6 separate regions of the Homo sapiens genome follow, and regions 2, 3, 4, 5 and 6 are each reported to be linked to region 1. The links are microRNA targets in miRTarBase. Many come from high-throughput screens and were not tested one by one. Region 1 holds a microRNA gene; each other region holds the end of a gene's coding sequence.
Evidence for each region. The annotated mature microRNA hsa-miR-3977 reads GUGCUUCAUCGUAAUUAACCUUA and lies in region 1 at 1,534-1,556, opposite strand. An mRNA with a match to its seed (bases 2 to 7 or 8) in the 3' UTR can be bound and repressed. Matches are read on the target gene's strand: a 7mer-m8 pairs with bases 2 to 8, a 7mer-A1 pairs with bases 2 to 7 and ends in A, and an 8mer does both.

Region 1 (5,089 bases):
ATTTTTAAAAAGACATAATAGTGCTTCTATTCTGAGATGCGGTGTGTTACTATTCCCCCTATTATTTCAAATGATAGCAATATTAAAACAATTTTGTATTATACTTCCCTGAAGTTAGCACAATCAGGCTACTCTTTTTTGCCTTCAAAGCTAAGACCTTGACCCCAAACCACCACCATCTCTCACTCAGGTGGTGGCAACAGCCTCCTAACTGTTCTCTTAGCCTCTAGCTTTGTGCCTCTCTTCCCCAACAAGAGGAAATGCAATAGCCAGAACAGCCTTACAAGGTCCCTTTTGTTCAACACCCTACAATGAGCCTCAGTTCATTCTCAGTAAAAGCCAAATGTCTTCCTTCTCTTTTTAATTATCTAAGTTCATTTTATTTTCCAGGATATTGTTTATCTTGAAATTCTATGGGTGCAAGAAAAAAATGTGACTGCTGCTATTATTGCGTGGAGTATTCATATACAGAGTATGGCATCTATCTTGTTGGTTGATTGTGTTTTTCAAATCTTCTATGTCCTTACCCCAAACTCCCAATCCTCCCATTATGCTTATCACCTTCTAATGCAATATATGCTTACTTAATATGCTTAGTGTTTATTGTCTATCTTCCCTTGTTAGAATGTAAGCTCCACAAGGTAGGCATTATTGATTGTTTTGTTTCCTGATGTATCTCATTTTTCTGGAACTGTGCCTGGCACATAGGAGTGCACAGTAAATATTCATTGAATGTTTGAAGAATGCTCCATCCCAACCAAAGGTAGAATAAACCAGTTACTTATTTATTTTGAGACAGAGTCTTGCTCTGTATACAGGGTGGAGTGCAGTGGTGTGATCACAGCTCGCTGCAGCCTCAACCTCCTGGCTCAAGTGATCCTCTTTCCTCAGCCTCTTGAGTAGCTGGCACTACAGGCTAATTTTTTAAAAAAAATTTTGTAGCTATGGGGTCTCAACATGTTGCCCAGGCTAGTCTCAAACTTCTGAGCTCAAGGGATCCTCCTCTCTCAGCCCTCCAAATGGTTGAGATTATAGACATGAGCCACTGCGCTCAGCCCAGCTATGTTTATTTCTATGCCCTTTTCTTCCCTTTATTATTCTGTCTCACACACAAATATGTCTTTTATTCTGATGTCCCACTGATATGATATCAATCTATTTTAGTCAACATTTTTTATTCTTATGGGTTATATACTTTTTTAGTCTTAATATCATTTAAGGGTGGATCCAAGATTTGGGGGCCCTCTTCAAGTAAAAGAATGTGAAATTAAAAACACAAAAACTGCTTGGAAAGAGGCTCTTCACTCTCATTCATGCCAGCTATCATGTTGAGATGCAAGACACCACTCCCCTTTCTTTCCATTGTGGAAGGAATTTCAGATAGTAGAAAACAGGGGCTTCCACTGATAATTTCCTAGCATAAGCTATGATGTTGATGATAAACAAGATTAAACTAAAAGGCAAAGAAGAAGCAAAAAAAGTAGTTTGATTCTGCCAACACATAACAAATTAAAGTGATTTACCCGAACCACTTAAGGTTAATTACGATGAAGCACAATGTAGACTGTGAATGTCATTAGTCTGATAGATTCACTTTGGCTGCCACAGAAGCTAGCATTTGATTCTATGCTGAGCTAAGGAGTTTCTTCAGCTTCTGGCACACAACCCAAGGCTTGCCCCACTCCTTGTTTTTTTTTTTTTGATTTTTTTTTAATTGTTGCTAAAATCAGTGGAACACTGGAAGAGAGGGAAAGGAAGAGAGAGAATCAAAAGCATGGAGGCATATAGCAATCTGAGGAAAGGAAGAGGTTGAAGACATTAACGTAGATATCTATAGCCCCAGTTGAGTTTCTGTTCATCTCCCTTCAATACCCATTCTCTATCCAAATAGTGATGTGGCGCTTTGTTTAATTATTGTTTAATAGAAGTCTTCTCTCCTAGATTGGAAGCTTCCTAAGAGCAAAGGCCTCATCCACTTCCCTCCTGCTCTCCCTGCAACATGTCCCCCTCCATGTGTCTGGCACATTAAAGGGTTTCAATCAATAATTGATGTGTGAATTCCTTTTACGAATGAGTAAACAAATTGAAGAAAATTTGGCTCTTAGAATCCCCCACTTGGTAGAGCATCTCCTTAGTCCTGTTTTCTTTATTTCATTTATTTCTACACCAAGGATTTCTTCTGCTCCTTATGCCCAAGGCTGGAAGACTTAAACCCCTGAATGGGAAAGTGCCTTATAGCAACTGCCTTCATCAAAACGAATTAGACCATAAAGACATCTAGTCTGCACTCTCTCCTACCTATCACTTTCATTTTATTTGTAATATGTTAATAATACATGCAGAGCAGGATAAATGAAAAATATTACAATATGTTCTGTTGACCTAATGTGAGCATACATTTGGCCAAGTAACTGTGAAATATTTGATATTTTCACAGGAAAGCCAATGACTTTCCGTCTCTGAAGTTGGTGCTTTGGTTTATTTGACACATTTTCCATAGTCATGTTACCAGTAATTTTAGAGGTCCCAGGGGAAGAAACATTTCTCTTCCCTGAGTTCAGTAATTGTCATCTGAAGGTCTGAGAGCTGTACCACTTGCTTCTTGATTGTTTGGTTAAAGAAAAAGTTGTATGAAATGTCCTTTCTATTTTCAGAATATATATTTAACATAGAAAACCTGCTGGTAATTGTGCCAGCACTTAAACGCTATTGTTTCTTGGAAAGGGCCTATTCTGTTGCATGTGCCTTTTAAATGTAACATCTTTAAAACTTGAGTTCAAAGGACTGCCTCTCCTTTCATTAAACTGTAAGGACTTTGGAATGCTGTAAATTCATGTTCCCAGTAATTCTGGTCCTGGACAAGTTTCCTCTTCAACACCCCCTGTCCTTTGTTGTCATCTGTCTTCTCAGCGTCCTTCTGATGTCCAGCTTTGTGTTTCCTGCTATGGACATTTCCTGAGATCACTTGAGCTTATGTTCCATCTCCGAGAGAAAGCTGATGAGAATTAGTCATCCATGAATGTGATTATGGGTGATAATAAGCCCTTCTCAGTTGAGGTATTGCAGCTTAGCAGGAGACTTTTGAAATATTATCACTTTGCACAGTATGATTTTACCCAATATTCACAACAACCCTGTGAAGGAGAAGATGTGGCTAGAAATATTTCCATTTGTAGGTGACAACACTGCATTCCTGAAGGGCTAAATGATTTGCTGATGGTGATGTTACAGGACCCCAGCACTTACCCAAAGGTAGCCATTGGGTCAGGGTTTCTGCTCTATAGTCCCTTCTGTGTCACCAGAAAGATGTTACAGGACCCCACCACTTACCCAAAGTTAGCCTTTGGGTCAAAGGTTTCCTCACTGTAGTCCCTTTAGGTTTTGCCAGAAAGATGTTATAGGAAAGGGGTCCGGATCCAGACCCCAAGAGAGGGTTCTTGGATCTCGTGCAAGAAAGAATTCAGGGCGAGTCCGCAGTGCAAAGTAAAAGCAAGTTTATTAAGCGAGTAAAGTGGTGAAAGAATGTCTACTCCATAGACAGAGTAGGATGTTCCTGAAAGTAAGAAGAGAAACACATCCACCCTAAGTACAATACTTGTATATATGGGGAGATGTGCTCTGCTACAAGGATTTGTGATAAAGGATTAATTTGCTTGATTACTATATTTTGCAAGAATCAATATTATTATCTTTAAAGCAAAATTAGGAATGCCTTTGTTCTCCAGATATCGGGATATCTGGACATGCCCAAGTCTGGGTCTGTTTAGCAAACATTATTAATTTGTTCCCTTAACCATAGACATCTAGAGGCTAGGAATGACTAACCTTCTGGAAATGCAGCCCAGCAAATCCCAGCCTCATTTTCCTAGCCCTCACTCAAAATAGAGTCGCTCTGGTTCCAACACCTCTGACAGTGACACAAAAAGTAGCAAAGTCTGAACTGAAAACAGGCTGAGTCAAGATACTTTTGCATTTTTCTATCATCAGGTTACTAGCATCTGGAATGATCAGATAACAAAATTGTAAGCAAAATAGTTGGCGAATAGGAAGGACTGTGGCTGCATGCTAATCTTTCAGCCCTTCCCTGATCTTTGACTCCTCTCGCTTCTTTGATTCCACATTCCCTTTCTCCTCCTTTTCTAACAGAATCTTCTAGTTTCCTAAGCAGATTCCTTTCTCTCTGTGTCCCTTGGAGTATCCAGGGGTTTTGGCCCTCTTCTTTGTTCACTTTATACTGTCTACATGTGTCACCTTAGGTACATCTTTGGTTTAAACCATGATCTTTAGGTTGATGACTTAAAAAACCCAAATCCTGAACTTAGGTAAGTCTTTGCTGAGTACTATGATGGTGCACGCAATTGTCTACAGGGTAACTATTCTGGATAGTCAACTATTACTCTAACAAGACATGGCCAACTCACCAGCCATCTTACAGACTGAACATTTGTGTGCCCCCCACATCCATATTTTGATGCCCTAATCTCCAATGTGATGGCATTAGAAATTGAGGCCTTTGAGAGATAGCTAGGTTTAGATAATACCATGAGGGTGGAGCCCCTAGTGATGGCATTAATGCCCTTACAAGAGAAAAAGAGACACCAGGGTGTCTTCTCTTCATCAGGTGAGGATACTGTGAGAAGATTACCATGTGCAAGCCAGGAATTGGACCCTCACCAAGAATCAAATTTATCAGCACCTTGATCTCAGATTTCCCAGCCTCCAAAACTGTGAGAAATAAATATCTGTTGTTTAAGTAAAAAATACTGGTGTTTGCTATTTTGTTATGGCAGCCTGAGCAGACTAAGACAAGATGCACTCCCCACCTGCTACCCTCATCTATTGCTTACAATATGAAATTACAACTTTGCTATTAGGCCATTTTCCAATTTTTTCATCTATTGATCTATCTGACTATAGTTTGGATATTTGACCCTTCAGACTGCATGTTAAAATTTGATGCCAAAGTTAGAGGTAGAGCCTAATGGGAATGTTTGGGTCATGGGGGTAGATCCCTCATGAATGGCATGGTGTCATCCTTGTGGTACTGAGCTCTCACTATATTAGTTTCCATGAGAGTTCCCCTGAGAAA
Region 2 (4,435 bases), not on the chromosome of region 1:
CGACCGGCGCGAGTGCGACTTCCGCGAGGACGACTCGGTGCACGCGTACCACCGTGCCACCAACGCCGACTACCGCGGCAGTGGCTTCGACCGCGGTCACCTGGCCGCCGCCGCCAACCACCGCTGGAGCCAGAAGGCCATGGACGACACGTTCTACCTGAGCAACGTCGCGCCCCAGGTAGCGCCCGCGCCCCGGGCCGGTCGCGGAATGCGGGGCCGGCGCCTGGCCTCGCGGGGCCTCGGTTTGTTCTTCTGCAGAACGGGGCAGCTGCCCAACGCGCCCCCGGTCAGGCATCGCAGTGACATCCCGTGGCGGGAGGGAGGAGCACTGGGCTCCAGGCACAGGGTCTGCAGGCCGACCAGGGCTTGAGCTTCAACTGCGAACCCTGGGCACCTCCCTGAGCGTCGCTTTCCTCGTCAAAAAAATGGGGATAATACCGTTATTCACCTTCCTCCTGCGGTAGTGATGAGGCGCTGAGGCTCACAGAGGCAAAGTGACGGGCACAGTGTCACACAGCAGAAGAAGGCTGTCTGTTGTAGAACCGCAGCGCCCAACCTATTGGGCACCAGGGTGCGGTTTCGTGGAAGACAGTTTTTCCACGGCTTGGTGGGTGAGGGCGGGTTTCAGGATAATTCAAGTGCGTTACATTTATGTACATTTTATTTCTATTATTATTACATTGTAACATATAGTGAAATATACAACTCACAGTAATGTAGGATCCGTGGGAGCCCTGAGCTTGTTTTCCTGCAACTAGACAGTCCTATCTGGAGGTGATGGGCAACAACGACAGATCAGGCATTAGGTTTTCAAAAGAAGCGCGCAACCTCCTCACATGCGCAGTTCACCATAGGGTTCCAGCTCCTATGACAATCTCCAGCCGCCACTGATCTGACAGGAGGCGGAGCTCAGGCTGCTGTGGGATCAATGGGGGGGTGGCTGTAAATACAGATGAAGCTTCCCTTGCTCGCCTGCTGCTCACCTCCTGCTGTGTGGCCCGGTTCTGGTACCGGTCTGTAGCCCAGGGGTTGGGGACCCCTAGTCTATAAAACCGTGAGCCTCCAGACATTGTCCTACCCTGCCTGCCTTCAGGCAGTTTCGAGGCAGACACCTGGCCCACGATCAGGTTGTTAGTGCCAGGCACTGTGCACTGGGCCAACCACCCTCTCAGCCTGTTCCCAGCAGGTCCTGGCACCAATGGATGGAGACTGCCATGGGGCTCTGGGTGGAGCCCATGGGGCACCAACCTCTGACCCAGCTTCCTTCTGGGAAGACAGCCCCCTATCCACTTTCCATTGTCCCAGGCCTGGAGAGCTCAGGATGGAGGTCGATTCATGGCATTCCCCGCTAGGCTCTTCCTGTGGCTCAGACTGGGAAAAGGAACGGGTTGGTAGTTGGAAGGGCTGGTCTTCCCAGGAGACCCTGGGTGGGGCTGGGGACAGGCCTCAGTCCTCTCTGAAAGGTGGAGACAGGCTCTTCCTTCATTCGACTCTTGGGAGCTGAGAAAAGACTTTGACACCTGGGCTGTGGGAGGGACAGAGGGTGGTGGCTAGCACTCTATCAGCCCTGGGTTTCAGGGAGTGACTTTCATTCCTTGAGCCTCAGTTTCCCCCCGCTTGTCTCACTGGATATCTCTGAGCCTGTCCATCCCCTCAGGACCTGGGGCGGCCCTCTGATAGAGGAGGAAGGGTCCCAGCCACAGTCCTGCTAAGCCCTATCTCTCCTACCAGGTGCCCCACCTCAACCAGAATGCCTGGAACAACCTGGAGAAATATAGCCGCAGCTTGACCCGCAGCTACCAAAACGTCTATGTCTGCACAGGGCCACTCTTCCTGCCCAGGTAAGGTGGAAACCAGGGGGGCGGCAGAACCTCCCACTCACCTGAGGCCCCTACTGCCACTCACAGGGCCAGGCTTGCCCCAGGCTCTGGGTCAATACCAGTTCCCTACTCATCTGGTTTCTTGGCAAGCCTGTCAGCTTCCCTGCCTCGAGTCCCCTCATTCCACCTCCACAGCCAAAGACCTGTCGGGTACCCCTGACCATCTCTCCTCTGCCCATGGGCAGCAGCAGGCCCTGAATCTGCCCCCGCTTCTCCCTGCTGTCACCTCTTGGCATGCCCACCCAATCTTGTTCTGCCAATATGGAACCCCCCGCAGGTCTGCAGTGCACCAAGCTCTCCCACCTTCCCCCCGCAGGTCTGCAGTGCACCAAGCTCTCCCGCCTTCCCCCTGCAGGTCTGCGGTGCACCAAGCTCTCCCACCTTCCCTCTGCAGGTCCGAGGTGCACCGAGCTCTCCCGCCTTCCCCATGCAGGTCCCCAGTGCACCGAGCTCTCACGCCTTCCCCATGCAGGTCCCCAGTGCACCGAGCTCTCCCGCCTTCCCCATGCAGGTCCCCAGTGCACCGAGCTCTCATGCCTTCCCCCTGCAGGTCCGCGGTGCACCAGGCTCTCCCGCCTTCAGTCTCTGCTCTGCTTGGAGCACTTCCCTCCACCCTTCTCGGGAGTTTGAATCTAGATCTGCCTGACCCAGGGCCTCCACTCTTGCTCCTGTGCAGCCCTGCCTCTCAGGTGGAAGCAACTGAGCACCTCTGGGTGTGCTCCGTGGTTTTTCTGGCCTGCAGAGGGCTGGGGCTGAGAGGCAACAGGTCCAGGCTGAGCAGCTCACTCTGGAATCCACAGGCTCGGGATGGAGTCCAGGCCTCATCACCTAGTTCCTTGGTGCTGTGGGCAAATGACCTGTGTCCCCCTCTGCAAAACCTGTGACCTCTTGGTTGATGTCACATGCTTCCCCAGGGCCTGGTCCATGGTAAGGGCTCGGCATAGGCTGGCCAAGGCGGTGGTTGGGGCACTGATCAAATTTCATTAGCAGGTGCCTCCTAGGGCCTGGTGGAAGGGAGGAGACTCTGCTGAGGGGGAGCCCCCGTCCGGTGTCCTGGCACCTGTGCTGGTGCTGGGATATCACCTGTCATGGTCCTTGCCCACTTGTTGCTCACCTCTGTGGGGAGAGATGGACAGTCGTTAAGTCTCCCCTCAGACGAATGTGAATATTCAGAAGGCTCGATTCTCCTAGCAGCGTTTATTGTCGCCCACTCTGCCTGACCCAGTGTTGGGCATAAGGAAAACAGAGGGAAAGAGTTAACCACCCTGGAGAGAGTTCCAGCCTCAAGGAGGAGCCAGGCAGGCTACAGAAGTCTCACAGTGAGGGCGTGGTCCTGCAGGTTGACAGAAGTTAGAGGACAGATCAGGGAAGGCTGCCTGGAAGAGGTGGCTTTGGGTTCATCCAGGCCCCCTGCCCACGTGTGCCTGGGTCTGCCCACAGGACAGAGGCTGATGGGAAATCCTACGTAAAGTACCAGGTCATCGGCAAGAACCACGTGGCAGTGCCCACACACTTCTTCAAGGTGCTGATCCTGGAGGCAGCAGGTGGGCAAATTGAGCTCCGCACCTACGTGATGCCCAACGCACCTGTGGATGAGGCCATCCCACTGGAGCGCTTCCTGGTGCCCATCGAGAGCATTGAGCGGGCTTCGGGGCTGCTCTTTGTGCCAAACATCCTGGCGCGGGCAGGCAGCCTCAAGGCCATCACGGCGGGCAGTAAGTGAGGGTGGAGCCCAGTGAGACTGTGGGTGTGTGCAGGCCGGGGAGTATTAAAGGTGGTGATTTTTGGAGACAAGTCTGGTGGCGTCCGTCCCAAGTGACCTGCAGAGCCCCTGGTTTCACTGCTGCTTCACTGATGTCCTCGGCCCCTTAGAACTTTCAGGTGTGCCGGGCACCCGCCTGGATGAGGCCAGGCTGCAGGGCGGCCAGGGAGATGAGGATGGCTTCCTGGAAGAGAAGCGTGGCAGTGGGCTGGGGCCTGGGGGGCTAGCGGGTGCCCCCGCTCCCAGCCTGTCTTCAGTGCCTGGCTGCCCGAGACCTGGCCCACTGGGGTCCCCTGTCCTTAGTAGGGCCTGGTGAGGTTAATGACAGGCCCAGGTTCACACTGCACACTTGCCACCTGGAGGACCACACAGCCTGCTCCTCAGGCTCCTCTTCTGTAAAATGGGGGCGAAGGTAACAACGCCCACCTCCCAGGGCCAGGGGAGGGCAAGAAGAGGGGCAAGAAGTTTTCACCCCTCGTGCAGGGGTTGGAAGGGTGGCAGCCAGGGTTCCTGCTGGGGGGTATGGCTGTCAGGCTCAGAGTGCTCGGCTTGGGCAAGGCCTTAGGGATGGGTAGACAGGGCTGTCGGCCCGGCGAGACTGATGGGAGTACCAGCCTTCCCAGCAGAGTTCCCGTAGCACAGCGTCCTATGCCTGACCCCAAAAGTGGGTACACAGGTTCCATGAGGCCAGGACGAAGGCTCCAGCTGCACGTGGCTTCCCCCGTGGGACAGATGCAAGTGAGACCCCAAGGGGAGAGCTGCTGTGCCCACCGTGGTCACACACAAGGAAGTG
Region 3 (5,089 bases), not on the chromosome of region 1:
TCACAGGTAAGTAGGAGAGAAATGCAGGCAAACGATGAGACTAAAATGTGTTGAGTGCTAGAAGGAGGAAGTGAAAGGGGCAATGGAAACTCGGGAGAGTGACTGCCATGTCTATCCAAGGGCATTGGAAAGACTTCTTATAGGGGAAAATATTTCCACTGAGATCTAAAGGGATGAGTAGAAGTTTACCAGGTAGAAAAGACTTTCTAGGCATAAAAGGCTTGGAAGTATAAGAGAAAAGGGCCTGCTCATGTAGCCACCAGTATAGCTAAAGCATAAACTATGTTGGGAAATATAGTATGAGATGGGCTGGCTGAAAGTTCATGTAACATGTCTTTGTCAACTTTGTGCTGGCCAGGTGTGTGAGAAGTTGAGGAGAAAAGGAAGGGAGAACAAACGGTAGATATGTGTTCTCTATTTGCTAACTAGAGGTGGGGGTAATTAAATCTGTGACTACCTCATAATAGGGCTTTGAAAAATAATTCTTGAATATTGAATAAATAAATGTAAATCTGGCAATATCATATAATTTTGTTGCCTTTTATCTTTTTGAGATACGTAATGATACTCCTTTTTCTCTCCCTGCAGTGATAGCAGGGATTAGGGAAACTGAAGAGAAATTCTACTACATCGTGCAGGAAGAGAAGAACTACAGGGAATCCCTAACCCACTGCAGGATTCGGGGTGGAATGCTAGCCATGCCCAAGGATGAAGCTGCCAACACACTCATCGCTGACTATGTTGCCAAGAGTGGCTTCTTTCGGGTGTTCATTGGCGTGAATGACCTTGAAAGGGAGGGACAGTACATGTTCACAGACAACACTCCACTGCAGAACTATAGCAACTGGAATGAGGGGGAACCCAGCGACCCCTATGGTCATGAGGACTGTGTGGAGATGCTGAGCTCTGGCAGATGGAATGACACAGAGTGCCATCTTACCATGTACTTTGTCTGTGAGTTCATCAAGAAGAAAAAGTAACTTCCCTCATCCTACGTATTTGCTATTTTCCTGTGACCGTCATTACAGTTATTGTTATCCATCCTTTTTTTCCTGATTGTACTACATTTGATCTGAGTCAACATAGCTAGAAAATGCTAAACTGAGGTATGGAGCCTCCATCATCATGCTCTTTTGTGATGATTTTCATATTTTCACACATGGTATATTATTGACCCAATAACTCGCCAGGTTACATGGGTCTTGAGAGAGAATTTTAATTACTAATTGTGCACGAGATAGTTGGTTGTCTATATGTCAAATGAGTTGTTCTCTTGGTATTTGCTCTACCATCTCTCCCTAGAGCACTCTGTGTCTATCCCAGTGGATAATTTCCCAGTTTACTGGTGATGATTAGGAAGGTTGTTGATGGTTAGGCTAACCTGCCCTGGCCCAAAGCCAGACATGTACAAGGGCTTTCTGTGAGCAATGATAAGATCTTTGAATCCAAGATGCCCAGATCTTTTACCAGTCACACCCTATGGCCATGGCTATACTTGGAAGTTCTCCTTGTTGGCACAGACATAGAAATGCTTTAACCCCAAACCTTTATATGGGGGACTTCTAGCTTTGTGTCTTGTTTCAGACCATGTGGAATGATAAATACTCTTTTTGTGCTTCTGATCTATCGATTTCACTAACATATACCAAGTAGGTGCTTTGAACCCCTTTCTGTAGGCTCACACCTTAATCTCAGGCCCCTATATAGTCACACTTTGATTTAAGAAAAATGGAGCTCTTGAAATCAAAAGAAAAAAATGGGGAATTGTTCACAAACAATACTGGTTATAGTTCTCTTGCTAAATTGCCCACTGCTATTAACTTAACTTCATTTTTATTTATCTTAGGTTTACCTGCATCAATTTTATTCACCTTAGGCATAGGGAATGAGGGAAGGAGTTTGTGAAGCCTTAAGAAAATTCTGGAAGCTTCAAAGTGCTACCAACATCATCTCCAGGCCCCCTCATCCTTGCCTCTAACATATCACTAATGGTGACATTTCATGGGAGGCCTTTTACTCTTCATAAATATATGTCATAGAAATCCTACTGGAGATGTCCCTTCTAATACTCTGGCATCACAGAAATGTGTGAGGCACAGAATTCGGAACATGCTTAGAACTCACATTTACTGAGCTGGTAAAATTCTACCTTGAACTGTAGATCAAACCTCAAAGCAGCTTTCACTTGGAATTTAAAAATAAACAGTTCAAAGATACTCTAGATTATCACCCTATAAACTTCTACTCCAGTTATGGTTTCTGACATATGATTAGACTGTTTCAAATGCTGGCAAAATGGTTAATGAAGTAAGAGAAACAGATCAACAACATATGTTCACCTTAAACCATCTGTTCATGATTTCACCCGTGACTAACTGGTTATGAGATAGGACTTAATTAGGTTATTTCTGTGGGTTCAACAAGGGCCATAAACTCAGATCCTACAGGGGCCAGGCAGATGACTTACCTAAATGAAGTGGAACACGTGGGGACCCTAGTGCACTGAGCACAGCTTGCCCTTCCAAAGGAGCCAGCTGCTCCTCAGTGGCTGCTGCTGGTGCTAGGGAGGACCCAATCTTGCTAAATGTGCTGATATTTCAAGAGAAGTCAGAAAGCTGGGACTTTGTAACATAAGCTCATATTTTAATATGTTGGCAACTAATTAATTTTTAACCCAAATTTTAAGTGGGTTAAAAATTAATTAAAATTAAAGATTTGAGGTCAAAAGTCTTCTAGCTAAAGTTGTGATCATTTCATTTCTTACTTCTGGAGGAAGGTTCAGAAGGTTCTAACCAAATAGAATGTCATTAGGATATGATGACATGAAAGTCAAGATATCCCATTAATACCATATTCAATTCAGCTTAATAATAGGAATTTGTTATATGTTTGACATTTATCAGGTTACTAGTTAAACTCTTTTGAGATGATAGTACATGACACTTTAAAGGCAGAAAAGCTTAATAAAAATTACAAAGTAGGACATCAAACGCCAGTATCCTTGGATAGAAAGCCATCCCAGATCATGAGGAATGAAAACCTAGAAACACCTGTAGGAAAATAAAGCTCATATGTAAGAAGAGAGGAAGGAGAGACATGCAGCAAATGTTGCCTACGGGCAACTTCATGTTAAGGATCCATGTTCTGATTTGTTCTAAGCCCCCAAAGTATGAGTATTTATTGTGTGCACTGTTAGTGCTATTATTATTTACTGTGAATGTTATAATAATAGTTCTCTCAATGACTCATGTTGTCTGTGATGCTTCCAAGAGAGATAACAGAACTTCAACAAATAAGTTATATCCTGCAACCTTGCCTGAAAGAAATTTTGAAGACACCACACACTTAATTAAAATTACTACAAAAACTCAAATTTGTGAAGCACGTTGTGCTTTAAAAAATGCCTTCACATATCAATTTTCATTTGATTCTGATAAACTCTGTGAAGGACGAAAAACAGTCATTTTTACTGCCACTTCCCAGTGATACTACTGAGGCCCAAGGAAGCTAAGCAATTTACCAAAATCAGCTCACATATAAATGAATGCCATTAGCCTGCTGATTGAAACTGCCAATGCAGTGTCTTCTCCAATTTCTGTGCATTGCTCATGTATTGAATGGAAGTTCATCCACAATGGTCTTGTGATAGCAGGGGCTCAAACAACTTATCTGTACTACATTCCAAAGTTAAAGATGAGGATTAATTAACAGAGATGCTGGATACAGCAACTTGCCTTACAAATTTAGTGTTCACTGTTTTGTTTTTCAATTCACAAACGTCCACATAGGCATTAGTGTTGAGGAGGTGACTTACGGCAGCCACAGTACAATTCTGCAGATAACTAGAGTTATAGGGCAATCAAAGCAGATACATAAAAATCAATTTTGTTAGTCTTTTCAAAATACCAGCTCCTCAATTCCTGGACTTTTTGATGGGTTTTTCATGTCTCTATCTCCTTCAGTTCTGCGCTGATCATAGTTATTTCTTGTCTTCTTCTAGCTTTTGAATTTGCTTGCTCTCACTTCTCTAGTTCTTTTAATTTTGATGTTAGGGTGTTGATATTAGATATTTCCTGCTTTCTCCTGTTGGCATTTAGTGCTATAAATTTCCCTCTAAACACTGCTTTAGCTGTGTCTCAGAGATTCTGGTATGTTGTGTATTTGTTCTCATTGGTTTCAAAGAACTTATTTATTTCTGCCCTAATTTTGTTATTCAACCAATAGTCAGTCATTCAGGAGCAGGTTGTTCAGTTTCCATGTAGTTGTGTGGTTTTGAGTGAGTTTTTTAACCCTGAGTTCTAACTTGATTGCGCTGTGGTCTGAGAGACTGTTTGTTATGATTTCCATTAGTTTGCATTTGCTGAGGAGTGTTTTACTTCCAATTATGTGGTCAGTTTTAGAGTAAGTGCAATGTGGTGTTGAGAAGAATGTATATTCTGTTGATTTGGGGTGGAAAGTTCTGTAAATGTCTGTTATATCTGATAACAAGTTCTGAAATTGAGGCAGTAATTAAGAGCCTACCAACCAAAAAAAAGCTCAAGACTAGACAGATTCATAGCTGAATTCTACCAGAGGTACAAAAAGGAGCTGGTGACATTCCTTCAGAAACTATTCCAGACAATAGAAAAAGAGGGACTCCTTCCTAACTCATTTTATGAGGCCAGCATCATCCTGATACCAAAACCTGGCAGAGAAACAACAACAACAAAAATTTCAGGCCAATATCCTTAATGAACATTGAAGTGAATATCCTCAATACAATATTGGCAAACCGAATCCAGCATCAGAAAGCCTATCCACCATGATCAAGTCGGTGTCATCCCTGGGATGCAAGGCTAGTTCAACATATGCAAACCAATAAACATAATCCATCACATAAACAGAACCAATGACAAAAACCACATGATTATCTCAATAGATGCAGAAAATGCCTTTGATAAAATTCAACACCCCTTTATGCTAAAAACTCTCAATAAACTATTTAGTGATAGAACATTTCTCAAAATAATAAAACTATTTATGACAAACTCACAGCCAATATCATACTGAATAGGCAAAAGCTAGAACCATTCCCTTTGAAAATGGGCAC
Region 4 (5,089 bases), not on the chromosome of region 1:
TTTTTTGAGAAGGAGTCTCCTCTGAAGCCCAGGCTGGAGTGCAGTGGCATGATCCCGGCTCACTGCAACCTCCTCCTCCTGGGTTCAAGTGATTCTCCTTCCTCAGCCTCCCAAGTAGCTGGGATTACAGGCGTGCACCACCATGCTGGGTAAATTTTACATTTTTAGTAGAGACGGGGTTTTGCCATGTTGGCCAGGCTGGTCTTGAACTCCTGACCTGAAGTGATCTACTCGCTTCAGCTTCCCAAAGTGCTGGGATTACAGGCGTGAGCCACTGCGCTTGGTGGAGAATCTGAGCTTTTAAACACTGAACCATGATACATTACTGATGATAATGGGCCCTCTTTCTAAATGAATCAGGAATATCATTAGGCTTATCAATTTTTATTTGATATATACAGAAACTACTGTGGTTTAATACAGGATTATTTATGTACCTACAGGATACAGTTGTCCCCATCTACTGTTCTTTTGATTTACTTTGTCTGCTTTTTATAGTTTTCTCTGTCCTCTCTGAAAAAAAAAGAATATTTTCAGTATATCTGCCTCTACAAATTGTCTTCTTCCCTTTCATGTTCTACTTCCAATTTCATAAGAGTCAGAAACCAGATCACCCCACATGTTAGAATTGTGTCTAAAACAGGAGTCAAGAGGCCTTGGGAGAAGACCCGAGCCTTTAGTGAATGGACTTGGTGACATCTGTGACAGGGATCTTTATTTTTTGGCATGTTTTCTGTTCTTAACTGTGATCCAGATAGTTTAAATGGCTGGATAAGTGACTTCTCAGTAAGCGAGGTGTCACAAAATATAAACTCAAGGCATTTCTATTCTTCCACCTGTTCAAAAGTGTTTTAGTCATCATCATAATTGGAAGGATGGCCTAGTTCCTCAAGCTTCTGGGTAGCCATCTGATGCTTGGAGGTAGAGAGACGTGGCTACAACTTGTATAAAAATAGCCCTTCCAGATGGCTGAGGGGCAAAGTTACAACTCAGCAGCTCGATATAGCTGAGCACTCAAATTTTGGAGTAGGAGGAGAGCTATGTGAGAAGTAGCCAGAGAGACTGGGCTGGAGCCCAATCATAAGTAGAACAGTATATGCCAGGAGCGATCACTTAACGTGCAGATTAGCTGTTAAGTTTTTCTGTTACTTCATCTCCATCTCCTCCCCAACTCCCTTGATTCAACCTTACTTCTGGCCCTAAGGAAACACATACACATACGACATAGACAGATATGCACACACACTTTCCCCTTTTTTTTTTAAAGGAGTATAAAATAGAGGAACAAACCATAACTCTTAAAAGGCTTCAGAATTCTACTAGTCTAACCCTTCATTTTAGAGATAAGCAAACTGAGGCAGAGAAAGGTGTGGTGACCATCCAGGATGTGAGCAGGACTCCCACGCTCCAGGTGCTCTGCCAGGGCTCATCTTCTGGCTCGTTTGTGGGACACTGATAACAGCGCAGCTATCCCAGGACATGTTTCCTCCAAGTCTGCTTTGACTCATTTCAAACTCTAAATAAAGCCTTTAGTTAAAAAAGAAAAAAAAAAGTATGGGCCCAGCGTAGTGGCTCACGCCTGTAATCCCAGCCCTTTGGGAGGCCAAGGCAGGTAGATCACGAGGTCAGGAGTTTGAGAACAGCTTGACCAACATGGTGAAACCCCATCTCTACTAAAAATATAAAAATTAGCTGAGCGTGGTAGCACACGCCCGTAATCCCAGCTACTCAGGAGGCTGAGGCAGGAGAATTGCTTGAACCTGGGAGGTGGAGGTTGCAGTGAGACAAGATCATGCCACTGCACTCCAGTCTGGGTGACAGAGTGAGACTCCATCTCAAAAAAAAAAAAAAAAAAAAAGAGTGGATTATTGCAAAAGTCATGATAATGTCTCCACCCTCAACACAAATACTCAAGCTCTAGTCCCTGGCTTGAAAACCTGTTTCACCAGTGAAAATATTTACTAATCAAATTAGTAAATATTAAATTGTGTAGTTCCCACTTTTTATTTTAAATCTTTTATTCACTCTGCATTTCTATTGGATATTCTGGAAGAAAAACCTCTGTAGTAAATCCATTGTTTTAAATATCTCAATGTCTGTTCAAATAATTGAGTGTTGGTTTTAAAAAATAGTCATTAGGAATGGGTTAGTACTTACGTTTTAGCAATTGTAATGAAGACTTTAAAAAAAAACAAAAAAACAAACAAAAAACACAAGCTTATTGAGAAACATGTTACACTCCTTTAACATCATTTATGATCCCCAAAGGCAAGGCATTGCTGTTCCCTGGTGGCTGTACAGCATCACTGCAGGTAAGCGATTTGGAGGTAGAAAAGGTGTTGAGTGCCAGCCTTTCAAATTCAGTTCTACAATGAATCAACTTTTAAAAATACTCCCAGTAGCTTGCATTTTCTTATAAGAAGGGTTTACAGGTAGCAAAAACAAACAATCCCCAACGAACTTTTTCCAATACTATAGGATTTGTGCTGCCCAAGTAAATATTACATTATTGGAAAATAGCATGTTACTTTTCAAGAGGAAGTTCACTTCCTTCTTATGGAATTTATCCTTAAACTGTATGGTATATGGGCTTTGTGCAAGGTGCTGGAAGTAGGCAAGGAGGCCTCAACCATGATGTACACACACTATTATAGCACCATTGCTCTCCTGCTACTGAGTCACATAGCTCACCAACTGGGGAGGGGTCACCACAGAAAGAGTAATGGAGCGAGATAGGTACAAGCATTTTTTGATTGCCCGCCAAGCACCTGGGCCTGTGCTAGCCCTGTTAAACTTGGCTGGAGCAATCCTGCTAAAAGGTCAGGCTTGATTCATGAATAGGTGTGCTAATTCTACTCCGGATACATCCCCGTCATCCTGTAGCATACAGGCCTGAGTGAAGCTGGCCTAGAGCAGGGATTCACCTGCTAGATAATTATTGCCCAAATTAAGAATGCAAGTCAGGGCATGATTTTCAACGCCTTTATTAAGAAATATCAAAAGTTGATTACAGGTCCATATGCAGTTTTACAAAGTTCAAGTGAAGAAGACTGTAGGGATGCCATCAATGTGCGTGTCTGAAGACTATGGAAGCTTGTCAAAGGGGTAACCCTACAACTCCTGTCACTTTAACAATGGTCCACAGCAATGCTTTTCCCCCATTTCTACTAGGCTAGGCCATTGCACAATACCTTAAGCTACTTAAAAGAGTTTTAATACGTTATAAATACGTACATATTTGTCCTTCTAGTTTGTTACCATCCTTCCCTGAAAGAGCGGAGCTGTTTATAGGAAGCACAACATTTGAGTCCCATTCACTGCTGTTTGTATTACATTTTCACAAAGCCTGCTTTGAAAGCTGGCAAACACTGCAAGTTACATGTTACCATATTACACATGGGAGGACCCATACACATTGTTATTTTTAAATTTAACATTGAACAAAAAAAAGGAGGAATCACTTAACTTGGAAACAAAACACCAAAGTTAGTCAGTGGAATGGTCAAGAGCAGGACAAGCCTGCCAGGGCCACTGAACTCCAGTCACAAGTGGTCAAAAGTATGACCGAGAACAACTGGATGCAGGAACATCAGCACAAAATACAGATGGGAATATTCTCGGGAGTGGTACATCACCATCTTGTATGTGAGGGATATTGTGTCAGAGGGGAATTACACTTTCAAAATAACCAGGGCTAGTAGGTCATTAGTACCAGATGGGGAACAGCAATGGTGTGGCATGCCTTGTTTAAGGCCTGCGCTGGTTTATCTAAAAGTAGATTTCTGAAAAGATTGTCCAGTAGCATCAGAAAGAGCCACTTTCAGAGGAAGGACTCCTTGTTCACCCACATCAGACTGCGTGTCTCGTTGGGCTTGCATTCATACTCAATGACAGAGAAGGGGCTTCCCCACTGGCAGTGATCCCGCTTGTGGTAATTGTAGAACTTGACTTGCCACACTGTCTCGAAGGTCCCAATGTCTGTGAACTGAGGGAAGAGAAACATGCCTGATAAAAAACCTCATTCTGCCACGAGCAATAGATGAGAGCTAACATTAGTGATGTAGCTCCTGGATAATCAAGCAGACCCAGTCCAGATTCTCTTGGTCTGCAAGGCTCGGAAGGCTTTCCTTTAGTGGTCTAGCTCCCTCCTTTATGATGGGAGATATTTTCCTAAAAAGCTGTCTGTAAACCATTCTTCTCTATAAAATCTGATTCCCATTGCAAACGTGCCACTCGCTATCATATTGCTTTTAATAAAAATAACTGCAAAGTTTATCTTGTTTTTCAAGTTTAATTTTTTGAAAACTTAGAATTTTAAAGCTTACTCTAAAATGGCCCCTGCTGGCCAGGTGCAGTGGTTCACCCCTGTAATCCCAGGCTGAGGCAGGATGCTAGCTTGAAGCCAGGGGTTCCAGAATAGCCTGAACAACAAAGCAAGATTCTGTCTCTAAAACAAACCCCCATGTTCATCCCCCAAATGGTCCCTGCTACAGAAGGGGAATGGCGAAGGGAAGAGAAGGAATAAAGTTTACTGGCTTTTCTCAAAATACAATGGTACAAAACAACCTGTCTACAATACATCTACATAAAATTTCCATCATTAGTTTCAATTCCAAAGAAAAATATTTCAAAGTGATAACTGAAAATATTTCATTGGAAGTGTTAAAGGCCATATTTTAACTATTAAACATTGAATACTTATAAGTCAGGAGTCCATGCCTACATCTTGGGCTTAGATTATACATTACCCAGAACCATATTTGAGTATCTGCTATGTACCTTGCATGTATAAAAATTCGTATAAGGCAGGATTGTTGCTCTTAAGAAGTTAGCATTCTACTTCCAGAAGGTAGGCCCTGTAAATCACTGCACAGAACTCTCCTGAGGTATAAAGTACACATTTCTCTTGCAGCTGAGAAGAGTACCTGGAATACCCTGGAGGCCACTGGGCAGATGCTCAAGTGGCCTGTGGGGTAGCCTGACCCTGCTACTGCCTTCTGGAGCTATTTAGGGGATCTGGCATTAAACTGCATGATGCCTGTCGTTATTTTCTCCTCTGACCCTCCCCTGTCATGGGAGGGGACAGGGA
Region 5 (5,089 bases), not on the chromosome of region 1:
CGTCTCTACTAAAAATACAAAAATTAGCCAGGCGTGGTGGTGCACATCTGCAATCCCAGCTACTCAGGAGGCTGAGGCAGGAGACTCGCTTTAACCCAGGAGGCAGAGGTTGCAGTGAGCTGAGATCAGGCCACAGCACTCAAGCCTAAGTGACAGAGTGAGACTCTGTCTCACAAAACAAAAAACAACAAAAAAGATGCATACAGGTGCCAAGCTGACTAGGAATGGACTGTGAACGTTAGTTTTATGCATCAACTTGGCTAGGACACATTGCCTAGTTATTAAAACATGAATCCAGGTACTGCTGTGGATGTATTCTGGAGATGTACTTAACATTTATAATCCCTTAAATTTAAGTAAAAGAGATAATCCTCCATAATGTGGGTGAGACTCATCCAATCAACTGAAAGGCTTTAAGAGCAAAACTGAAGTTTCCAAGAGGACGAACTTCTGCTCTGAAACTGCAGCCTCAGCTCCTACCTGAGACTTTTCAGTCTTCTGGCCCGTCCAACAGATGTTAGACTTGCCAGTCCCCGCAATAGTATAAGCCATTTCCTTGAAATAAATACACATATGTCCAACCGGTTCTGCTTCTTTGGAGAGCCCTGAGACAACTTTCTTCCCCAAATATCCCATTTTATTGTTTGTTGAAATATTTTATTTCTAATTTTATTATTTTTGAACAGTTAAAAACTCAAAGTACAATGAAGTTTACAATGAAAAGGCTCACTCCTGGGATCCTTATCCCCCAGGTATCTAGTTCTGCTCCTTGGAGACTACCAATGTGATCAGGTTCTTCCATATATGTCTTCAGAGACAGTCTACCATATACAAACAAATAGGAATACATACACATTTTTTCTTCTTATACATCAATTGTAGCATGCCATACAGTTTGACACCATGCTTTTCTCAATAAACATTATTATGCCTTAGAGATCTTTTCATCTCAGTACCTAAAGCACTTCTTCATTCCTTTTTCCATTGGGCAAATTAGTTTCACCAATCCTCTGTAATTTATTATCTAAAGTGAGACATTGAGAATGAAAGCACTATTAATAATTATCCAAGAACAGCAGGTATAAACTGGTAGTGTTCAAAAAGCCAAAGCATATGGTTATCCTACCTATGGCAGATATTTAGGTTGCTTCCAATTCTTTGACATTACCAAGTTGCAAAGAATATACTTGTAAATACATACTTTTGCACATCTATGTGCTTTGTTTGGTAGGATAAATTTCTAGAAGTGGAATTGCAGGGCAAAAGGTTATGTATATGAATTTAAAAGTTTCACAGACTGCCAATTGCTGTACATAAAGAGTATAACAAGTCACACTTCCCTAGCAGGCATAGAGAATGCCTGCCCTACTTATTGAATAATCCTTTTCCCATTGTGATCCCGTCTTTATAACAATGTTTTAAGCCCTCACATGTATGTACTGAAGTCTTTTTTCTGGGTGAGTACATACCATTGATATCTAGTTGTGCATTCAGTTCTGTACTACCTTTCAAAAACAGTTAATCTAGGTTTACATTACCCTTTCAAAAATTTCTTAGCAATTTTCACCACCTTATTTTTCCAGATGAACTATGGGATAGTTTATCTATTATACCCCCTCAGAAATTTTAACAGTGGCAGCATTCAACATGTAAAGGTTAAGTAGCTCCATTTGTTATCATTTCTTTTTCTAGGATTTTTAGATATACAATTATTATCTGCAAATAGAAATCTGGCCACCTCATTTCTAAAAGACATTGTTTCATGCACCATTGCACTGGCAAAAATTTCCTGAACGATATTAAATAATCCAGATAATGGGAATTCTGGATTTCAATGAGTACATCTAGTATTTCAATTGTAACAATTAACTACAGTCATGTGTTACGTAACAATGTGGATACATTTCGAGACATGCTTTGTTAGGTGATTTCATCATTATGTGAACATCATACTGTACTGACAGGAACCCCAGATGGTATAGCCTACTACTACACACCTAGGCTATATGGTATAGCCTACTACTACATACCTAGGCTATATGGTATAGCCTACTACACACCTAGGCTATATGGTATAGCCTACTACTATACACCTAGGCTATATGGTATAGCCTACTACTACACACCTAGGCTATATGGTATCGCCTACTACTACACACCTAGGCTATATGGTATAGCCTACTACTACACACCTAGGCTATATGGTATAGCCTACTACACACCTAGGCTATATGGTATAGCCTGCTGTTCTGACCACCCTCGTATGTGGTCCTTCACTAACTGAAACATCATTATATGGTACATGGCTGTATTTATAGCTCTTTGCAGGTAAAGCATTATATCTCTTGCCTCTATTTTATTTACAAAGGCTATTTTCTTGCCCATTTTAAGTGCCCCTAGTCTGTGGTTCTATACCATCCTATGTATAGCTTTATCATAGCACTTTCTATACCTGCTTCCTTTACTGAACTCTAAGTTCTTTAAAGTAAGGTATCACAAATTAATCTCATATTTACACTGAAGAAGGGAGGAAGGATGGAAGGAAGAAAAAGTAGCACATGGCCCGGTGCAGTGGCTCACACCTATAATCCTAGCATTTTGGGAGGCCAAAGCAGGTGGATCACTTTAAGTCAGGAGTTCAAGACCAGCCTGGCCAACATGGTGAATTCCTGTCTCTACTAAAAATACACAAATTTGCCAAGTGCGATGGTGTAAGCCTGTAATCCCAGCTACAAGGGAGAATGGGGCATGAGAACAGCTTGAACCCAGGAGGCAGAGGTTACAGTGAGGCAAGATCATGCCACCACTGCACTCCAGACTGGGCAACACAGCAAGACTCTGTCTCTTAAAAAAAAAAAGAAAGAAAGAAAAAGCAGCACAGCACCTAGCCAATTGCCTCACTGCACAATTCTAGGGATAACAATCACACATATTCTATGTGAAAGGCAACTCCCAGAGCATAGAAATATGATGAGACATGAATGGTGCTTCTTAGAATTGTGCAATGTGATAGCTCGGCTGACTGGCACACAGGTGCTCAATGCATATGTACTGAACTGATCCAGGGAAAAACTGATTGTCAAAGAGCCTAGAAAGAAATTAACTCTGAATGATAGACTGCATTCCTGAACATAAAGGGTATATTCTAGAACTGTAGTACCTCTTTCATGGAGATTAAATTAGGTTCATGCCTGAGGTTTCTTGGTTTCTTTTCTTTTTTGTTTTTGAGACGGAGTCTCTGTTGCCCAGGCTGGGGTGCAGTGGCACAATCTTGGCTGACTGCAATCTCAGGTTTCTTTTCCAGTTAACAGTTCATACTACCGTAAAACAATCTCCAAACCAATACCTACAAGAAACACTCATTATTTATTCATGTGGCTGAAAGAGTATATTAATTATGTTTAGATTTTTGGAAAAAGTCTGAACAAAAAAAGGACCTATACAGTGCTCAAACTATATTTTTAAAAATACTATTTTATTTTTACTCACATATGAAAAAAATGGCTGTACTATCATGTTTACATACATACTAACATTGGAAACAGAATAACGAATTGTATTTAAATTTTATGAAGAACACACAAACATTAAAACACTGATTGGTTACAGAAAGCAGAGTTTGAGGAAAAAACATTAGCTATAATTTTCATTTTCATTAAAGAGCAGCACCCTCTGAGAATAATCAAACTGATTAGTAATATTCATCTATACTGCAAAATAATATGTACAAAGGAAAGTTAGTGATTGTACTGATTTTATTACTTTTACCAAGCCATTTTATGTTCCTCACTCAATGCAAAGAAATAAAACATAATCTGAAGAAAAATATGTCCTTATTATTATTCACAATAAAAAGTTGGCTTTATTCTGCAAGCCTGGGCATATTGTACAATTGGCAGCACTTAACGGCTCAAGTGGATCAATGTACCAGTTTGATTCTGATCCACTGAATAGAATCTCTCATCCATATCTGGTGACCAGACTAACTCCATGGGAGCTGTGATAGACTGAACCATTTCTGTGGTATCCCTAGATCTCACTAAATAAGAAAGACCCTACACCAGAAAATATAGCAACTGATCTATCTATAAATTACATCTATATGCTAGCTCTTTAGTATAAGTTGGAAAAAGGGGCCCTTTCTTGAGCACATGGATAAAAGTATTATTGTAGTCTAAAGATTGCTGGATTGATATTGTGTTGTTATAATGAAGATAAGGTACACACTGAAACCACTGTCAGATTAAGAAACTTCCACAACTTGTCTCAGTTCTTCAAACAATGGAGCAAGTTCCTTTTCTAGGCTGACAATTAGTCCTAAAATAAAGAGATTAAGAAAATTACATGTTAGAAAAATGTTCCTCAAAGCCTGAAACTCAGATTTCCTTATGTCCAAAATACATAGTTACCAAAAGTAAATCAGAACATAGTTTATTTCCCATGACTGAAACAAAATACAGGTTGAATATCCCTTATCCAAAATGCTGGGTATCAGAAGTGTTTTGAATTCTGGAATATTTGTACAATACTTACTATTTGAGCATCCCTAACCCAAAAATCTCAAATATGAAATGCTCCAGTGAGCATTTTCTTTGAATGCCATATTAGTGCTCAGAAAGTTTCAGACTTTAGAATGTTTTGGATTTCAAATTTTTGGATTAGGGATGTTCAACCTGTACTATAACCCTAAATAAAGCAACCAAAAACTTTGTAGTCATTAATAAGTTTATTTTCAGCATCTATTACTAAAGTGAATGAGTGAAAAATACTTATATATTAGGAAATACAGAATAAATTATATGCACTATAATTTGTTAAGAGTTTTGAAAGGAAAATCTTAATTTATACCTTACTGCTTCAAAATTTGCCTTGACTCAGAAATAATACATATGATTTTTACTAAATAAAGCATACTTTTGTCTCTAAGCAAATTTTAACAGATTATATCAAAAGATAGGTGCTTCTATATTGAACAAAGAAAATCAGAAATTTATTTTTATAAATTTGACAAAGCTAAGACATAAATAAATATTTCAAATGAAAAAATATTTTAAAAATAAATGGTAGAGTACAAAACACACTGGAGTTC
Region 6 (4,000 bases), not on the chromosome of region 1:
ACAGGAGATGAACCATTTTACATTCCCGCCAGGAGTACCAAGGGTTCCAATTTCTCACCAACGTTTTATTTTCTGCTTTTTCTGATAATAGCCATTCTGATGGGTGTGAAGTGGTATTTCATGGTAGTTTTACCTTTCCTTATTAGTGATGTTGAGCATCTTTTCATGTTTATTGGCCATTTATATATTTTCTTGGAGAACTGTCCAACTCCTTTGCCCATTTTTTAATAAGGTTTCCTTTGTTGTTCACTATACTTTAAGCTTGTCCTACCCATGGTTTGCAGGCCGTGTGCAGCTCAACACAAATTCGTAAACTTTCTTAAAACATTGAGGGTTTTTTGTGTTTTGTTTTAGCTCATCAGCTATCATTAGTGTTGGTGTATTTTATGTGTGGCCCAAGACAATTCTTCTTCTTCCAGTATGGTGCAGGGAAGCCAAAAGATTGGATACTCCTGCTTTAAACTTCAAATTGTAAGCTCCTTAAAGGCAGGAATCATGTTTTCATTTTCCTTAAAAAACCTAACCAAAACAAACACAACCCTGCAAAGCTTAACAGAATGTGTGAAGTATGTAGATACCATTTGTTGAATGCAAAAAACGACTTAATATTTTCAACCTTGTAAGAGTTGAAGAAAGAAGGAGGAAACACAAGAAGTGGCTCAATAGTCAAAGACAGGTTTATTTTGGGGAGTATTCTGGCTGATTTCAATCAGGAGCATTCTGTCTTACAGACTGAGGGTACTTAAGGGTTTAGCAAGGGAGAGCTTATCGCATGCTCGGAGTGTTTCTGGGTGGAGGAGAATTTTATTTCAAGGGTGGAATGTCTGTTCGGAGGGGAGGTTATCTCGGGGCTGGGATGTCTCTGGTCAGAGGGGGCTTTATCTCAGGGTTGGAAAGTTTCTGGTCTAAGGTGTCATTTATGGTTTATGGTCATGCTGACATTAGCCATTAGGCTGATGTTTTCTGGGCTGGATTTAGGCGGTTTTTAATTGGGAGAACTTAAAATGGCAGTGCTTGTCCAAGATGGCGATGCTTCTGCTCTGTCAAACCTTACCTTCTTACACTTTACATGGGGGTAAGGGTTGTCTGCGTTAGGCTGCTGTAAGCTGCCAGAAGGCAGGACCACAGCTACAGAGGCTCTTTGAACAGCACCTCATATTGCACTCCAGCAACCAGATATTTAATACAAGTTTTTAAATATGCCTGTGGTGATCTTGGCAGCATGTGATATTTCCTGTTTGGCTACCACTGTAAATTTGATACAAACTCTGAAAATAATGAATACTTAATTTTGGTGCGTCTTTGAACAATTTTCTTGAGTCCAGGAGCCCATAGCACTGGGCAATCCAGGTGATCTGATACCACAGAGATTTTTCCTGTCAATCAGGAGATGAGGATTCAGGCTCACTGAGACTGCTGCTGCTGACTTTATTAACGGTTGTACAGGTCACTCAACCTCTTGGTGGCTCTGGAAAATTAGGAAAATACTGATTATCTTAGGTTCAGGAAGAACTAGTGAAATGCCTATTTTTGAAATATAGGCTTAAGGAAGAGCTTAATTTGATAATGATATTTTTATAAAAATGAATTTTAGAAGTAAAAAACTTCCCACCTAGAATCACAGGAAATGTAGTTTTTCTGGTTTTGTTTTAAAGAATGAGATGCTATCGTTCAAAAATTGAATAAGTATTTATTGTTCCAGAAGGTACATTGCTTTTTATACATATTTCATAAATGATACAGGATTTTACACATGTTCAATAGTTTGCTATTTGTTTAAAGAACTTTTCTCCATGTCCTCCCTCCCTTGCTTCCCACACACCCCAAAAAGATTTGCTCGTTGCACTGTGCTGTTTCTTCTTAAAAACCCTATGCACAAACAGGATAAATGGGTTAAAAATAATTCACACAACTTAACAAAAATAAATGAGGGAAGGAGCTGACGACTGGGGGTGGTGGAGGGAGAAGGAAGTGGGCGGAGGGTCAGGAAGTGGAGACATGCATCCTTTCATTCCGTCATGCCAATGAAAGGGGTGTTGGCAGGAGTAGCAGCAGCAGCAGCAATCCTGGCTGGCCTTCAACCTTTGCAAGGCACCTGGAGTCTGGGTTTGTCATTTAAAGTTTTTCTTTTCATACACAATGATCCCAAAGGAGGAAGAAAAAGAGAAAGAAACTCCTTGCCACAATGAGGAAGGATGAATCACGTGAAAGAAAAGGCCAATCAGTGGTGTGGCAGCCCCCATCATCCTTTCCATCCTGCCCCTACAGCAGTTAAAAACAGGATATTAGACACAGATTCCTTTGACTCTTCAAGCGCAGATGTCATCTGGAAATATGGTAGAAAATGTTTTGACAAAGTATAAGATTAATTCTCTTTCTCTCAATTTAAGATAAGAAAAAATAGGGTGAAGAGAGTGGGCTTGAAGGAAGCCCTAGAAATGTATTCCTATATAAAGATAAATTGCACCCTTTGAGATCCACACACTTGATTTACAACTGAAGTTGTGGAGGTGGGAGGGCTCACAAACAGTGTGGAAGTGTGTGTCCTTCGAGATGAACAAAGCCTCCAGACAAGGCAGTCCCATCTGGCTGGCCTGGAATGCTGTCACACAAAGCAGATTAGCAATAAAATTATTCTGGTTGAAATGGCTACAGAGCCATGATTCTTAGCCAATTTGTAAACCTTACATCTTCCTGATTTGGTAGTACAGCTGAACACCCCCTTTCCCTCTGATTTGTGTTCTGGAGGGAGAGGGGATTATCAATAGATAAGTATATAAAGGAGGGCAATTATTCCTCCTGTGAAAGACTAATTAATAAAACAAAACAAAACCAACAACCTCATGCAGTGTTGCCAGTGATTTTTAGACACTGATCCAGAGCACTGGGATATATAGACATTTAAGAAGGTATTAAGAGATAATCTAAAGTGTCAATTATTAAACAGTTATAAGTTGGTTCCAATTATCAAATGGAAAAAATGAGTGTAACCAAGAGGTACAGGTAGGTGGTCAGTAAAGGGATGCTGGAAGGAAAGATTCCTGGTAACTCTGCAGAGACTGGGTCCAATTTAAAATAAATGCTAATGATATTTTAGCATATCATGAGAATTTGCTTTTCTAGTATATTTATTTACTCCTATGTCAAAAATAGGGACAGTTAAATTAAAAACAAATAGAGTCGAGTGGGGTGCTGGTGTGTTACTCTTTTGCTGACTCTGCAAAGAAGATGCAAGAAACGAACACCCCCAGCATTGTTTTCTCTTTATGAATCTCTCAACTATATAACTGCATCATTTTCATCCAGAAACTGAGATACTTGGTTAAGACAATATTCACTAAGCCCTTTGAGCTTATATTCCACAATGCCTGATCCTCAGGTTTTAACATTCCCTTCTTCCCTCAGATCCTTTCTGTTTTTGTTTTATAATTAAAGGTAAAAACGCTCTACCCCCCACATGGCTCCCAGCTTCCACCTGCAATGCTTTAATTAAAAAGGCAAACAGGTGTTCCTTCTGCCAGGATTCAGAGGCTTTTTGCAGATCAATCTTTTTCACCAATTTGTCGGAGAGGCAGATGTACTTGTAATGGGTCTCTCAGTCTCTTAAGGTCCATTTCTGCCTAAAATAGAAACAAAAGGTGAGAAAACTGGCTAGTGAAGCTTTCAATGATATTACTGTCTACCAAGAAAAGGAAACTGTTCTCCATTACTATAAGTCAGAGAGATCATCTCAATAACTCTCAAAATAAGAGTGCCTTGAAAGACAAAGCATTTTAACTCACGGCATAGGACAACAAAGGGTGAATCCAAAATGGAAGCCATCCTTGGCAGTTTCAGCCCTCAACAAAGCCTCCAGAAAAATCAGTGCTATCAACAGGGTAGGACTCAGAGGCTAAGAATGTAAGGAGCATCTGAGACATACATCTTGATGGTGTTTCTCCAGTGAGAAGCCCTTTCACAAGGGCTAAGAGCCAGAACTTTATGCTACTCAAGATTTTAG

Region 2: the mRNA of SPOUT1 is a reported target of hsa-miR-3977. Seed matches in the 3' UTR shown: 7mer-m8 at 3,725-3,731.
Region 3: miRTarBase lists COLEC10 as a target of hsa-miR-3977. The part of its 3' UTR that is shown has no 7-base or 8-base seed match.
Region 4: miRTarBase lists CNRIP1 as a target of hsa-miR-3977. The part of its 3' UTR that is shown has no 7-base or 8-base seed match.
Region 5: miRTarBase lists LAMTOR3 as a target of hsa-miR-3977. Seed matches in the 3' UTR shown: 7mer-A1 at 1,145-1,151.
Region 6: the mRNA of MCU is a reported target of hsa-miR-3977. Seed matches in the 3' UTR shown: 7mer-A1 at 1,808-1,814.

The regions. Positions count from the first base shown.
Region 1 is chr5:82,836,624-82,841,712 of GRCh38, reverse strand. It overlaps MIR3977 (microRNA 3977), which reads right to left and starts at 1,558; the gene lies at 1,489-1,558.
Region 2 is chr9:128,819,008-128,823,442 of GRCh38, forward strand. SPOUT1 (SPOUT domain containing methyltransferase 1) reads right to left here. Exons shown (of 12, transcript NM_016390.4): 12 at 644-3,826. The coding sequence ends at 3,758. ENDOG (endonuclease G) reads left to right here. Exons shown (of 3, transcript NM_004435.2): 1 at 1-178; 2 at 1,732-1,841; 3 at 3,321-3,669. The coding sequence ends at 3,603. It overlaps KYAT1-SPOUT1 (KYAT1-SPOUT1 readthrough), which reads right to left. Exons shown (of 25, transcript NR_182311.1): 25 at 644-3,826. Among named protein-coding and RNA genes, the nearest start is that of ENDOG, 2.7 kb to the left of the region's middle. RefSeq lists enhancers at 1-456, 407-496.
Region 3 is chr8:119,105,212-119,110,300 of GRCh38, forward strand. It overlaps COLEC10 (collectin subfamily member 10), which reads left to right. Exons shown (of 6, transcript NM_006438.5): 6 at 589-3,244. The coding sequence ends at 980. Among named protein-coding and RNA genes, the nearest start is that of COLEC10, 41 kb to the left of the region's middle.
Region 4 is chr2:68,290,042-68,295,130 of GRCh38, forward strand. It overlaps CNRIP1 (cannabinoid receptor interacting protein 1), which reads right to left. Exons shown (of 3, transcript NM_015463.3): 3 at 2,969-3,985. The coding sequence ends at 3,821. The region is part of intron 1 of PPP3R1-AS1 (PPP3R1 and CNRIP1 antisense RNA 1); the gene reads left to right. Among named protein-coding and RNA genes, the nearest start is that of CNRIP1, 27 kb to the right of the region's middle.
Region 5 is chr4:99,877,751-99,882,839 of GRCh38, forward strand. It overlaps LAMTOR3 (late endosomal/lysosomal adaptor, MAPK and MTOR activator 3), which reads right to left. Exons shown (of 7, transcript NM_021970.4): 7 at 586-4,317. The coding sequence ends at 4,244. Among named protein-coding and RNA genes, the nearest start is that of LAMTOR3, 14 kb to the right of the region's middle.
Region 6 is chr10:72,885,365-72,889,364 of GRCh38, reverse strand. MCU (mitochondrial calcium uniporter) reads right to left here. Exons shown (of 8, transcript NM_138357.3): 8 at 1,671-3,620. The coding sequence ends at 3,543. Among named protein-coding and RNA genes, the nearest start is that of OIT3, 6.4 kb to the left of the region's middle. RefSeq lists an enhancer at 2,060-2,354.